Linked DNA regions of Homo sapiens: region 2 is linked to region 1. The links come from fine-mapping of genetic effects on gene expression. Tissue or cell type: whole blood. Region 1 holds a variant in brackets; the other region holds the start of a gene. All regions are shown on one strand. Distances are from middle to middle.

What was found. PIP is the estimated chance that this variant, and not a neighbour inherited with it, causes the effect.
Region 2: it holds the start of DRC8, and the variant in region 1 is fine-mapped to the expression of DRC8 in whole blood (TOPMed, PIP above 0.99).

What each region holds. Positions count from the first base shown.
Region 1 is chr1:245,118,104-245,126,524 of GRCh38, forward strand. It overlaps a transcript of DRC8 not described here. Among named protein-coding and RNA genes, the nearest start is that of KIF26B, 33 kb to the right of the region's middle. The variant C/T (reference allele first, on the strand shown) is at 4,059.
Region 2 is chr1:244,966,571-244,973,281 of GRCh38, forward strand. DRC8 (dynein regulatory complex subunit 8) reads left to right here and starts at 3,112. Exons shown (of 8, transcript NM_032328.4): 1 at 3,112-3,473; 2 at 3,759-3,873. The coding sequence starts at 3,849. LOC124900416 reads right to left here and starts at 4,000. Exons shown (of 4, transcript XM_054328428.1): 1 at 3,756-4,000; 2 at 3,685-3,754; 3 at 403-3,682. The coding sequence starts at 3,967. The coding sequence ends at 3,416. EFCAB2-AS1 (EFCAB2 antisense RNA 1) reads right to left here and starts at 4,299. Exons shown (of 2, transcript NR_111907.1): 1 at 4,242-4,299; 2 at 1-3,409. RefSeq lists enhancers at 1,462-1,966, 4,405-4,774 and silencers at 3,175-3,314, 3,585-3,764, 3,775-4,134, 4,145-4,234.

The sequences.
Region 1 (8,421 bases):
GGCCTGCCCTGTCTGACTTCCTGCACACTTAGACCGAGAACTGAAAGACCCTAGTGTCAAAAATATTTAAGATCTGCCATGAGAAATAGATGAGGGAGAATTAGAGCAAACCCTGGCCCTAGGGTGCATTTTGAGATTGAAATCGCAGCCTAGTCTCTTCCATTACACCATCAGTAAATCTTGAAGGACAGAAGAGTAGCCAAGAACAACACAGGGACAGGTGCGCTGGGCTTGGCTGGGGAGGGAGCCAGGTGAGGTTGTGGCTTCCTGAAGGCCCTCGAAGTTTGCCCCTGCAGCTTTCTTCGGAGAACTGGGAGAACACCATGTGTCACCTTGTGGAGCATTTTAAAAACGAGTGAGAAACCTTTATCGGGAAGATACTACGTGCTGTAAAACAATGACAGTAAGCCGGGCGCAGTGGCTCACGCCTGTAATCCCAGCACTTTGGGAGGCTGAGGCAGGCAGACTGCCTAAGGTCGGGAGTACGAGATCAGCCTGACCAACAGGGAGAAACCCCGTCTCTACTAAAAATACAAAATTAGCCTGGCGTGGTGGTGCATGCCTGTAATCCCAGCTACTCAGGAGGCTGAGGCAGGAGAATCGCTTGAGCCCCAGGAGGCGGAGGTTGTGGTAAGCCAAGATCGCACCACTGCACTCCAGCCTGGGCAACAAGAGCAAAACGCCATCTCAAAAAAAGAAAAGAAAAGAAAAGAAAAGAAAAGAAAAGAAAAGAAAAAAATAATGATAACAACAGTTGATGAAATGCTTTGATTTCCAGAAGACATTATATAAGGAGAGAACTTTACTTGCATGGGACAGCTGATGAGCTCCTCAGCTAGGGAGAGGGGAGGGATTGACTCATTCTTGATGATGGGGCAGGGCCAAGGCTGTAGGGAATTGGGCATTGTCTGGTTGCTGGTGGTATGAGATGCTGGCGGAGCCCAACCCATGCCTCTGGCTGTTATGCGAGGGTGGGAAAATTCCAGTTTGCTAGAACCATTAATAACACAAGTGGAAATCATGGGTAAGTTTACAGTTTATTCAAGCAAGTACTTCTAATTAAACAGAAAAAAAGAGTGTGAACTCTTGACCAAGGCATATTCATGATTTTCAGTAAAATAATTTCTCACTTCTAGTGGTCAAAATAATAATGAAGTGCGAATATGAAGTGAAATGCAACATTAAGGGTTGGTTAACCCCAAATTCTTTCATCAAAGAGCAATATACAAGAAATTGGAGAGTTTTTTTTTTTTTCATACTAAAAGTAACCATTAAGGGTAAAGAACTGAGCCTGGCACAGTGGCTCATGCCTGTAATCTCAGCATTTTGGGAGGCCGAGGCAGGAGGCCAGGAGTTGGAGACCAGTCTCGGCAACAAAGCGAGGCCCTGTCTCTACAAAAAAAATTTAAAAGTAACTGGGCATGGTGATGCATGCCTGTAGTCCCAGCTACATGGGAGGCTAAGGCAGGAGGCTGAAGTGAGCCATGATCACGCCACTGTGCTCCAGCCTGGGCAACAGAGCAAGACCCTGTCTAAAAAAAAAAAGGAGGCTGGGCACGGTGGCTCACGCCTGTAATCCCAACACTTTGGGAGGCCGAGGCATGCGGATCACAAGGTCAGGAGATCAAGACCATCCTGGCTAACATGGTGAAGCCCCGTCTCTACTAAAAATAGAACGAATTAGCCACACGTGGTGGCAGGTGCCTGTAGTCCCAGCTACTCGGGAGGCTGAGGCAGGAGAATGGCGTGAACCCAGGAGGTGGAGCTTGCAGTGAGCCTAGATCATGCAACTGCACTCCAGCCTGGGCAACAGAGCGAGACCCCGTCTCAAAAAAAAATAAAAAATAAGTAAATAAGTAAATAAATAAAAGAGCAAGGAACTGAACCCAGTGGATAATGCTGGGGCATCAGATAGAGGCTGTTGGCCATTTAGTTAAAATAAGATGGATGACCATAATCTGAAAGATGTAAAAAAAGAAACTGACCTAATTTATTTTTTTGAATGAATAAAATATATGTGGTACAAAATTCAAAAGGTATGAAGGCTCATAGAGTAAAAACTAATTTTTTTTTATAAATGTGTCCCAAAACCACTCGGATCCCTCTCCCCTGAGTGCACCGATTCCAGGGAATCCTTGTGTGAACAGGCAGGTAGCATCCTTATGCGCCCTTCACGCATCTCTACACATCACACTTTTCTCACTAAGCAACAGGTCCCATACGCTCAGTTCCTAATTGTATAAATACCCACCTCATCGATCTCAATGTCTGTGTAGTATTCTATTGCGTGAATGTGCCATATTTTATTTAACCAGTTCCCTTCTCAAGAATATGGAAGCAGTTTTCCATCTTTCAGAAACTCTGATTTATTTGTTTATTATTTGTATTTTTTTCCTGACAAAAATGCTGTTCAGAACAGAAATTCGAGTTTAAATTGCAGTGGCTGTTCTGGTTCATGTAGAACTAGACTTCAGCCTTTTCCTCATTTTCTTTTGCCTGGTAGACTTTTGCTTATCCTTTTATTTTCAGCATTTTTCAAACATTTTATTTTGGGTGTGTCTCTTGTATACCCAAGCAGTGATTGCAACATTTTCAGCAATTGCTATAATTTCCATTTTAGATACAGAGACACCTGTCACTTCGCACCTTAAATGAAGAGCTTCTGAGCTAATTTCTTCAATGGGAAGGCACCTCGGGGGTGATACATGAATAACGTGGAATAATGCAATTTGGGCAGATTACCAGTTAAAAGCAATGTTAGGTTTGGCCCACTTTGCCTTGCAGGCCGCTAAAGCCTCAAACAATATGACACCTGGCCTTTTACAAAGACCGGACAGTGGAGGTGTTGACAGGAATGGTGTTAAGCCAGGTTCATCTGGGTTTGTCAAGCATAGACTTCTACTTTTAAAATATTTAGGGCAAATACAGTTCAAAATTAATTTGGTCAACTACATTTTTCTTAAGTTTCTTTAGTTTTGAAACCTTTGTATATTTTTATTAATTATGAAACTCATACAAATGTTATGTAGGCAGAATTTTCAGGAAGTTTTATGCCCCTTTTTATAAACCTGTAACAAAGAAATAAGTGATATAATAGGGAAATACGGAGGTGTATTTGCAGTCTTTGTATTTTACAAAATTATCATTTGACCATAGATGTGATCGTTGCTGTTCCAAGTAACAGAAAGCTCAACCCATAAAAGGAATTAACTGGCTTATATGTAACGGAAGAGTCCAAAAGCAGACATAGCTTCAGATGCAGCTTGATCCAGGGCTCAGATGCCATGATCAGAATCCAATTCTTGCATCTGTTTCTTTGGGTTGGCTTCATTTTCAGGCAGCCCCCTTCCTCATATCCTCAAGATGGCAGAGACAGCCCATGGTCTTTCCCTTGCAGAGACAGATCACCAGGAAACAATACCTCTATCCCTAGCCATGAAACAGTCTTGAACTTTATTCTGACTTGATCAGCCAAGTCCCTGTTGGAACCATCACTGCCTAGCTTAGGCCTGAGACAGTGCTGCACCTCTACTACCAAAGGCCGGGCTGGCCTTCCCTAAAGTGTATGTGCTGCGTGGGGGAGAGGTACGGATCTGAACCAAAACGAGGGCTGTCCAGCGTCAGCAAATATCTCCCGCAGTCCCAGTGCCTCCAGCAGGAGGCAAAGCATCAACCCCTCCGTCTGGCTCCTCTACTGAAAATTCCCTCAGCAGCCTCACAGGCCTTAGGCTTGTCTTAGCTACTTCTTCATCTACTTTTTTGCTTTCTTAATTATTTTTCTTTTCTTTTTTCTTATTTTATTTTATTTTATTTTAGATGGAGTTTCGCTCCGTCGCCCAGGCTGAAGTGCAGTGGCGTGATCTTGGCTCGTTGCAACCTCCACCTCCCGGGTTCAAGAGATTCTCCTGCCTCAGCCTCCTGAGCAGCTGGGATGACAGGCACACACCACCACGCCTGGCTAATTTCTGTATTTTTAGTAGAGACGGGGTTTCACCATGGTCTGGTGACCTCCTGGTCTCGAACTCCTGACCTCAAGTGATCCTCCCGCCTCAGCCTCC[C/T]AAAGTTCTGGGATTACAGGCATGAGCCACCGCACCCGGCTGCTTCCTTAACTCTTGATCTCCTCTCTGTATCTTGCTTTGTCTAGCTGTTCTCTTCTCTCCATATTCATCCAAACATTTGCTTAGAAGTACCCAGAAGCATGGCGTTGAATGTGGTACACCTTGAACGAAGGGTGAAGAAACGAGGCAGAGTGACTTAGTAGCAAGTGACAGCACACAGTTTAAATTTTAATATTAGCCCATTTACAAACAACAGCTTATATAATAGTCATTCACATACCTCAACACTCACCATCCCCTCCCCACTTTTTTTCTGGAGACAGGGTTTCACTGTCACCCCAGCTGGAATGCAGGTGGCATGATCACAGCTCACTGTAGCATCGACCTCCTGGACTCAAGGGGTCCTCGCGCCTCAGCCTCCTGAGTAGCTGGGACCACAGGTGCATGCCACCACGCCCAGCTAATGTTTTTTTTTATTTTTTGTAGAGACAGGGTCTGGCTATGTTGCTTAGGCTGGTCTCAAACTCCTGGGTTCAAGCGATCCTGCCACCTCAGCCTCCCAAAGTGTTAGGATTACAGATGTGAGCCACTGTGCCCAGCCAACATTCACCCCATTCAAGTGTGCAATTCAATGGATTCTAGTATCTTCACAGTGCTGTGCAACTATCACTCCTATCTACTTACAAAGCATTTCCATCATCTTAAAAAGAATCCCCATGTCCAATAGCAGTTCCCCTTCCCCCACCGTCATCCTCGGGCAACCGCTAATCTTCCTGTGTGTCTGTGGATTTGCCTCTTCAGGGCATTTCACATAAACACAATCATACAATATGTGGCCTTCTGTGTCTGGCTTCTTTCATTTAGTGTAAGGCTTTTGAGGTTCATCCATGTTGTAATGTATATCCTTAGTTCATTCTTTTTTGTTAAGCTCACAAATAAAAAGCCTCACTTTTTATTTGAGGCAAGGAGACTGGCTACAGGGATTACAGTTCCAGCAGTCAAAACGCAACTCCAAGTGGCACTATTTGGACCGTAGGTTTTGCTTCATTTTGGCTGGAAAAGGGTATTCAGGATGTACTTCTCCCAGCCGGACAAGAAAAAGGGCAAAGAAAACTGGAAGAGACGTCTCGTCTACACAAACTGCTCTTTGGACACAGCATCAACCTGACCACACCCGTGCTGGCCAGTCTGCAGGTTGCTGACCCGCCGTTAAGGGACACAGGCCATACTACACTTGCTAGAAAAACTGAGGCAGGAAAAAGAGGTGCAAGGCACTGGGGGAAGAGCAGGTACCTATAGCTTTAAAGCTCAGTGTTGAAGGGGTAATCCTTGCAGGAGGCACAGCTCACCAAGACACAGACCCTCCCGTTCCTGTTGTAGCTGACTACAGTGGTCACATCAGGCTGCTCAGTTGAAAGTCGAAGTCCTCCAAGTTTTCAGCAGTGCGTTCCAGCATCACCACCGAAATGATGATAGGAATTACCACCAAATTCCTATGCATGGGAAACCAGATCAGAACCTGGGCTGCGTTTTTATTTGTTTATTTTTTTTACTGTGCTTGGCTGTGATTGCTTTGGTGCTGGGATCCCCCAGACCTGTCACGAGAGCTGAGGGGACTACAGGCAGTCACCACCTTGCCTTTGGATTGGCAGCCCTGGATTAACTTCTCCTGAGGTGGGTGCAGGTGGCACTCACTGTGGTTAACCACTGTTTTTAAGCCAGGTTTCTTTTTTTCTGTCTGTCATATATATATATATATATTTAGAGACAGGGTCTCACTCTATCACTCAGGCCTGGAGTGTAGTGGCATGATCATAACTCACTGCAGCCTCGAGTTCCTGGGCTCAAGTGATCCTCCCGCCTTGGCCTCCCAAAGTGCTGGGATTACAGGCTGAGACACCACACCTGGTCTTAAGCCAGGTTTCTTTACCATCTCTTGGAGATGGCTGCAGTTGGAGATTCCAAAAGCTTTCAGAGCCCTTCATCCACCAGCTCCTCCATGTGGCCACCCATGTGACATGAAGTTGGTGTCACTAGGTACCACGTTGTCTGTCCCATCCAACAGGAAAAATAGCCTGTTGGCCAGTGAATAAGGTAGGAATCCAGGTGGTCCCCTGAGGGTCTTCTGACAGGCTCCTTTATCAGGCTCTTCTCATGGTATGAGCACCGCAGCTTGCTGACAGTGGCAACGTTCTCAAGCTTCACAGACTCCGTCACTTGGCCTGGAGGGGAATTCTAGGTGTCCAGCCCCAGGACAGGCATTTTGGCACCATGATTGAGCACGATATGGTGAGCCATCCTCACAGGATTAAGAAGAATTCTGGACAGAAATATAGTTGTAAGTAAGCATCAGTCAGCCTGCACTTTGACCCACTTCCTTGTAACCAACAGTGACGTAGCACTAGGTAACATTTGCATCCCCGTTGTTCCTATAGATACAATTTCTGACCTTAGAATCACAAGGCTTTTGTTTAAAATAGATGGGATCTCTGACATTAGAATCATAAGATTTTTGTTTAAGACTTGCTTAAGATGTTTTTCAGATCCTGAATTCCAGCAAAACAGCCGACACCAACCAGTTTGAAGACCCCCACAGAGGAATGTGATCAGCATGAAAATACAGCTTCGTCTCCCTCTCCCATGACTCCACCCTGCACACTTCGACCAATCAACCATCTCCACACTCCAGTCTCCACTCCCAAACCCTTAAAAACCCCAGCCCCAAACTCCTCAGGGAGATGGATTTGACGTTTCCTCCCATTTCCTCCTTCGGTGGCCCTACGATGAAACCTCTTTCTCTGCTACAACCCTATGCCTCGGCGTATTCACTTTCTGGTCCCATCCAGCGATGGACCCATCGTGGTTACCGTGGCTGGCCAAGCCTGCTGTGCTTCACAGACCCCACTCAGGATCACACCACTTCGTTCCACTGTTTGGAGATGCCATGTTTGCTTATCCCTTCATCAGCTGATGAGCATTTGTGCTGTTTTCACTTTTTGGCTATTACGAAAATGTTGCTACGAGCATCCATGATATTCGCCCATTTAAAAAAGTGTTTTTCACCATTACTGCTGTGGGAAATTTCTCCCTGGCTCTGTCCTTTCTTTGTAGCCCAGCCTTCCCCCAGGTTTTGGCTCTCCCTCTCTGGCTCAATGTCAGCTCCTTGTCTCACCTCCTAGAGCAATTCCACTCTCCCACCTCCTGCTGCGGCATTTCCAAAGCCTCTGCTTAGCAAGGGACCACCCATTCTGCACCTCTCCCCTTAGGGCTGCAAGCACCTGCACAAACTTGGTGGTTATCCTATGCCTCAACTCAATCAAATTCTCTCAGTTTTCCATCAGCAATCTTTTTAAGCCAAAGGGAAGGCAAGGACTTGATCTTCACATCACATGAATCATGACACCTGCCTTAGAAGGCAGAAGCAACTGTAGTTGGAATAGCAATTGTTTTTCAACATATGGGATGATATCAAGGCTCTTTCCTCCCCATATGTCCTGCCCTGTTAGTGGCTGGGGCTGAGGGTTTTCCCAGGAAGCCAGATTGTCCTCACAAGTTCCTCAGGACCCTAGGGCTTCCACAGATAGTAGGACTGTTATCAGAAAGAAGTCTCGATCCAGACGCCGAGAGAGGGTTCTTGGATATCGCCCAAGAAAGAATTCAGGGGGAGTCCATAGAGTGAAGTGAAAGCAAGTTTGTTAAGAAAACAAAGGAGTAAAGAATGGCTACTCCATAGGCAGAGCAGCTCCGAGGGCTGCTGGTTGCCCATTTTTTTTTTTTTTTCTTTGAGATGGAGTCTGGCTCTGTCGCCCAGGCTGGAGTGCGGTGGCACAATCTCGGCTCACTGCAAGCTCCGCCTCCCGGGTTCACGCCATTCTCCTGCCTCAGCCTCCCGAGTAGCTGGGACTACAGGCGCCCGCCACCATGCCCGGCTAATTTTTTGTATTTTTAGTAGAGATGAGGTTTCACATGTTAGCCAGGATGGTCTCGATCTCCTGACCTCGTGATCCACCCGCCTCGGCCTCCCAAAGTGCTGGGATGACAGGCGTGACTCGTGATCCACCCGCCTCGGCCTCCCAAAGTGCTGGGATTACAGGCGTGAGTCACCACGCCGGGCCGGTTGCCCATTTTTATGATTATTTCTTGATTATATGCTAAACAAGGGCTGGATTATTCATGAGGGAAAGGGGTGGGCAATTCCTGGAACGGAGGGTTCCTCCCCCTTTTAGACCGTGTAGGATAACTTCTTGACATTGCCCTGGCATTTGTAAACTGTCATGGCGCAGGTGGGAGTGTCTCTTAGCATGCTAATGCATTATAATTAGCATATAATGAGCAGTGAGGTCGACCAGAGGCCACTCTCATC
Region 2 (6,711 bases), 150 kb before region 1:
GCAGCATACAATATTACAAGTTACTCAAGTATTACAAGTTAACAAGTTACTCAAGCTATAGCTCAGAAGCCATATACATATATATGTGTATATATGTAGAGTATATATGTATATATACACATATATGTAGAGTATACATATACGTAGATGTATATATACTCTACATATATGTATACGTATACATATACGTATATGTATACGTATATGTATATATACATCTATCTATCTATCTATCTATATATATATATATATTTTTTAAGATGGAGTCTTGCTCTGTCACCCAGGCTGGAGTGCAATGCCATGATCTTGGCTCACTGCAACCTCTGCCTCCTGGGTTCAAGTGATTCTTCTGCCTCAGCCTCCTGAGTAGCTAGGACTACAGGCTTGCAGCACTATGCCCACCTAATGTTTGTACTTTTAGTAGAGACGGGGTTACACCATATTGGCCAGGTTGGTCTCGAACTCCTGGCCTCGTGATCTGCCCACCTCGGCCTCCCAAAGTGCTGGGTATACAGGCATGAGCCACCGTGCCCGGCCGCAAAATATATTCTGAGGAATAAAAATGATTGTAGTTAGTTTTCCACAGTCCAAAGCAAGCTAATAATATTTAAAGAGTTAAAAGTGTAATATAATCATCGGTCATGTTTCTACAACCAAAGAGAGTTGAAAGGAGTCAAATATCAGCATAATGCAGATAATGTACTCACTGGCATTGTGGGCCTTTATTATTTGGATAATCATTTTCACCTTGTGGAGACTTTTCCAGAATTATATACTTTTATGCCTAATCAGCAAATTAGGCAGTTGAAAAGTATGTATGAAGCAGCTAATATGTGCCCCAATTAGGCTAGGTAGTGTGGGTATATAAAAAGGGTTTATAAAGGGGGAGGCTCCTATTCAAACCTTAGTGGGGTCAGGAGATGCGGAAGTTAATTAACATATATTAAATATTTTTTTACTCACCCACACCTAGAGAAACAGTACTGTTTTAAATGTGCTGTAGGAGTTCAGAGAAATACTGATTAATGTGGTTTGGAATAAATTAAATAATAAAAAGCTTTGCTGAATACAGTTAGTTTAAAAAATATAAAAATATAGGGGGATTTGCAGAGAAATCTGTTCAACTCTTAAAATAATTTTTAATTTATATATGTTTATATAAGAATTCCATTTTATTAACATGAAATACTAGTACCTTTTTTTGGGGATGGAGTCTTGCTCTGTCATCTGGGCTGGAGTGCAGTGGCGGATCTCGGCTCACTGCAACCTCTGCCTCCTGGGTTCAAGCGATTCTTCTGTCTCAGCCTCCCGAGTAGCTGGGATTACAGGCGTGAGCCACCACATTCGGCTAATTTTTCTATTTTTAGTAGAGATGGGGTTTTACCATGTTGGCCAGGTGGGTCTTTAACTCATGACCTGAAGTGATCCACCCGCTTCAGCCTCCCAAAGTGCTGAGATTATGCGTGAGCCACCGCGCCTGGCCCAGTACTTTTACTGATGAAAAATGTAATGTAAAAGGAAGGTCTGTCTTACATACAATAAGTGCTGAATCTGGGTCTTTTTTAAAAAAAGTCATTGAGAAGACTTACTCCTTTCTTAAGTTTTAAGACATTTATTATTGCAAACAGAAAAATTGTACTAGATACCGGGGATATATAAACGAATAATGCCGTTTCTGTCTTCAAGATCTTACTGTTTGGTAGGTGGAAATAAAGTGAACGAACGAAGGCACTGCAAATCAATGTGGGAGGCTCTATAAGCATGGGGCCACAGAGGAAAAGGCTGAGAGGGAAAGCTTCAATGACTAGGTGACTTCAAAAAGGTCATCCTGGCCAGGCACAGTGGCTCACACCTGTAATCCCAGAACTTTGGGAGGGCCAGGCAGGCGGCAGATCGCTTGAGCTCAGGAGTTTGAGAGCAGCCTGGGCAACATGGGGAAACTCTGTCTCTACAAAAAATACAAAAACTAGCCAGACATGGTGGCGCGCGCCGCTCCTCCCAGCTACTTGGGAGGTTGCGGTGGGAGGGTCACTTGAGACCGGGAGGCGGAAGTTGCAGTGAGCAGAGATCACACCACTGCACTCCATCCTGGACGACAGAGCGAGACCCTGTCTCGAAAAACAAAAGACAAAAACAAAAACAAAGGTCATCCTGCAGGACAACCAGGAGGGCACAAATGTGTGTCTGTGGGAAGCTGAAATGTTGGCGGGGGAAAAAAGCAGGGAAAGGCATTCCAGAAAAAGGAAACTGTAAACAGCACACGAAAAAGCATAGTGAATGAATAGGAAGCCTGAGACCAAACTTAGGGTTTCCTACACTTATTTCAAAGCCCTTCATTATCTATATGGAAAGGGGGAGTCTTTAAACACAAATATTTAGATCATATTGACTGAGATTTAGATATAAATGAATGCTAATAATTACTTTTCGTTATTTTGGGGTGTTAAACATTTACTGTACAAGATTGTATTCGTTTTAAGTATCTTCTAACATGAGCCATTTTGTAATGATTCAGTTGTTTATATTCAATTTCAAGTAGAATGCTGATCACAGCGCCAAATGGGTATCTTCTACAGAAAAAGTTATTTTAATAAAGAAAAATATAGTCAGTTTTAGGATTTCCTGAGAGATTATAGAAACAATAAAAGCATTAAAACTGTTAAGTCATTAAATACGAGTACCTTGTATTTTGAAGGCTCTTAAAATTTAGTTTATAAATTGCTTTTACATAACATATGCACTGAAATACCACTTAAGATTAGTTTTGAAAATAGGTGTTCGTTTCAACCACATCATTAGGTATTTTATTCAAAGCTCTTTATAAAAAGAGCTTTACTATGTTCCAGTATAGTAAACTTATCCAGAAAATAAGACAAAAATTTAACTTCATGCTATAGCTGCAAAGTTTTCGGAAAGCGGGATTTAAAACTTCCATTGTAACTTTAACTAGCGGTCATGTCAAATTTCACAACTAAGAACATTTTAACGCATGTAATACTGAGCACAACATGGGCACGTTTTTGTTGCTATGAGAACCTTCTATTTTGTATTAGACATTGCAGCCTTGACGACGCAATGTTTGTGCTATTTTGCGCATGTTTTCCTGCAGCTATTCCTCTCCTCTAGCAATAGTCGAATGGCTCTGGTTTCCTCTTGCGCCCGGCCCAGTTTTTCCGTTTTAGCTTCGGTTGTCATAGGCTGTGCTGTCGCTTTCTCTGGGAAAGGACGGTGAAGACTGGACGGGAGAAACCGGGAGGGCAGGCGCGGCCGTTCTGCAGCAGCCGGGCCGCTTCCCGGCGGGAGGCGGGCTGCGAATGGGAAGCGGGAGGAGGAGGCCGGGCCGCGGGCTGGTTCTATCACCCCCTTGGGAGCCCAGCTCTTCACCTAGCTCTCCGGCGCTTTTCAAAATCTGCAGTTAACAACAAAAATCGAGCAACGCCACGTCGCACAAACAGGACAGGAGGGGGCGAGGGGTGTGTGCGCGCGCGTGCTGTCCCCAAATGGATGAGAAATAAGGGAAAGGAGGGGTTGGGGACCGTGTGATGAAGCAACATGCTAGGCCCGGGACAAGTCCGGCTCCGGCCTCGGGTCTGGAGGGACAAGGCCGGGGGCCGGGTGGCAGACGGGGCCTCTGGTCTTCCCCCAGCGCGAGGGTCGTGGCGCGAAACGGGGACAGGGCGCGCGCTCGGAGCCTCCTCCCCGCCCCGCCCCGCCCAAGGGTCTTCCTCCCCCGGGATTCAGAGCGGCCCCTCCTCCAGGCCAGGCTCGCCGCGGGGCGCTGAGCAGGCCGGGACACCGCGGCCGAGGTTATCGTTAGGCATCTCCCAGGCGACCGGCTCCGCAGCAAGATGGCGGACGAGAAGGACAGGGAAGGTAAGGTAGGGGAGCCGGGGAGCCGCTGCCCTCGCCGCCCGCCGCGACCCCGGGCTGCACGGGGAAGCGCCGGGTGGGGTGGGCCCTCGTCCATCTGGAGTTCCCACCCGCAGGGAAAGGGCGGCCTGAGGAGGGGGCCACCCGGCAGCAGCAGTCGCCCTGCCCCCGTCCCCGTAGCCCGCCCGGCCCGCCGCTCCGCCCCGCCCCGCCCCGCCTCTCTCCCCCGCCCCGCCCCGCCTCTCTCCCCTCTTCCCTCCCTCTTCTCTCTCCCCTCCTCCCGCCTTCTTCTTTCTCCTCCCGCCCTCTTCACCCTCTTCCCCTCCTCCCGCCCCGTCCTCCTTCCCCCTCCCTCGGAGGCCGGGCCTTGCATCCTGCGCGGGCTGCGCCGGAGGCGCCGGCAGGGGGTGCTGATAATGGCGTCGTTGTTCACGGTCGCGGGGAAGCCGCCGCCGCCTCCACACTCTCGCCTGGGGTCTCGGTGCCGCAGGCGCCACGCCCGTAGCTGTCCAGGCTGTGGGCCCCGGGGGGTGGCCTGGGTGAGGAGGAGTTCTGGCCGCCTGAATCTGACGGGATCCTCTGTTTGCGCCGAAACCCCGCGCTGGCGCAGCCTGATGGCGTTCGCGGCCACCATTTTGCCTCCTTAATGAGGACGCAGGAGGACGGTCTGGAGGTCACAGCCGCTGCCTCCGAGCTTCCCGGTCCTCCGAAATGCCTGCCCCGCCGCCGGCTAGCGCCGCGCAATTGGCCTAGTGTCTTGTCTTAAAAAAAAAAAAAGACACACACCCAAACAGCAATTTTAATAACGACGAAAAACCAAAACCTGGTTGAGATCTTGGAACCGCTGTGCGCCGGCCGGGCCTCTCCCAGGGGACCACCCAGCCCCGCGCGGTGGCCGCCTGCAGAGGCGGGACTGCGCTTCGAGGCTTAAGGTCGCCAGTTCGGAGGCATCGATGTGTTGTCTGTGCGGAGAAGCCAAAAAGTGATTACGTTTATTTGCAAGACCGTTCATGTTGTTTTCAGTTCATGGTATGATTAAAACCCGATCCTTTGTTACCATGCCCTTAGGTACTAAAAAATAATTGTGTTTGATAGTTGGCAGTCACCCAAAAATATCCAAAAAGCCATGAAACAGTAAAGGTAAACAAGTAGGAAGTGAAAATAATATTCGTCCTTTGTTTTCTTTCTGGAGTGCTCAAAACACCCTCTCAAACCATTTTTCTCAGCATAGAACCAAGTGTGGTCAGGTTAACAGCTAATATTTACAAGGGAAGAAACGAACCCTGAGATATTTAGTCACTTGTTCCGGTGATCACAGAAAATCGGCGAAGAAACACATGAAACTGCCAACGATCTCTCTATTGATAACAAGGATACCGTGATTTTTATGTAATATTAATCTGAGAAGCCAGGATTATTTTGTAGGTATTAGCTTTACGAAGATGCCCTTACATACAAAGAAAAGGATAATTTTAAAACTTTCCCAGAAAAATGGATGGCTTATTTTTGTTCTTTACCAAAAAAAAAAAAAAAAAAGCCATTAGGAGATAAACTAGCAAGGTAATTATGGATATTTATTTTCTTAAAAAAGACTTGGTTAGGTCAGCATGAGAAAAAACGCACTGGAGTATGGTACAAATACAGTATTTCTCGTTTTTTAAAAACTGAGAGCTTTCCTGATTTTTCAGCTTTTGAACAATTTTTTTCCATTTAAAGTAAATTCAGAGAAACAATTTTGTCGATAACTCATAGAAGTAATGACTGTTAAAAGCTGGATGCCATTCATTCAGAATACATATATTCAATGCCATTATGTAGATAAGGCATTCTACTTAGAACTTTGAAAGATACGAAAATGAAAGACATTGTCTTTGCTTCCAAGGAAGGTGAGATGAGTAAGGGAGATGAGAAATTTACAAATGGGAGGAAATAGTTAACTGGGCTGAGTAGTCTGGGTGCCAACCACTGTGCTAGGTGTGTATCCTTGTAGTCCGTGGACAGCAGCCTGGACATCACTGGCTGCCACCGACCTAATAATGAATCAGTCTTCATTTTAACATGTTTGTAGGTGATTTGTATGTACATTAACTTTCGAGAAGGCCGGGCGCGGTGGCTCACGCCTGCAATCCCAGCACTTTGGGAGGCTGAGGCGGGCGGATCACGAGGTCAAGAGATCGAGACCATCCTGGCCAACATGGTGAACCCCGTCTCTACTAAAAATACAAAAATTAGCTGGGCGTGGTGGCACGCCCTGTAGTCCCAGCTACTCAGGAGGCTGAGACAGGAGAATTGCTTGAACCGGGGAGGCGGAGGCTGCAGTGAGCCAAGATCACACCACTGCACTCCAGCCTGGCGACAGAGTAAGACTCCGTCTCAAAAAAAAAAAAAAACAAAAACAAAAAACAAAGTTCGAGAAGCACTCATGTGCTGTATCTCATTTATTGTTAACAGTTTTATGGATTAACTAATTGCAGTTTGTGAAGGGTATTATGAAATAAAGGCATTTTGTTAGAGGATAAACTAAGTAGAGACTCATTTTGGTGGTAAGATCTTTTTATGGAAATAGTCTATTACTATATTTGATTGTCAGCTACTGTATTTTGAATTTTCAGAAATTACGTCTAACCAATTAATCAGAATTGATTAAGTTTTGAGGATTCACTCAACTAAACTCATAAAAGACTGATGTGCAAACCTGAATGATTTATTAATTTAAATAAGGGTATATACATTGACTTGAAGGCTGATTTTGCCAATATACTAATATAATAATTTTGGCAATATACTAATATAATAATATACTGTTTTATGGGTACTAAGCTTCGGGTAGTGTGAATTTGT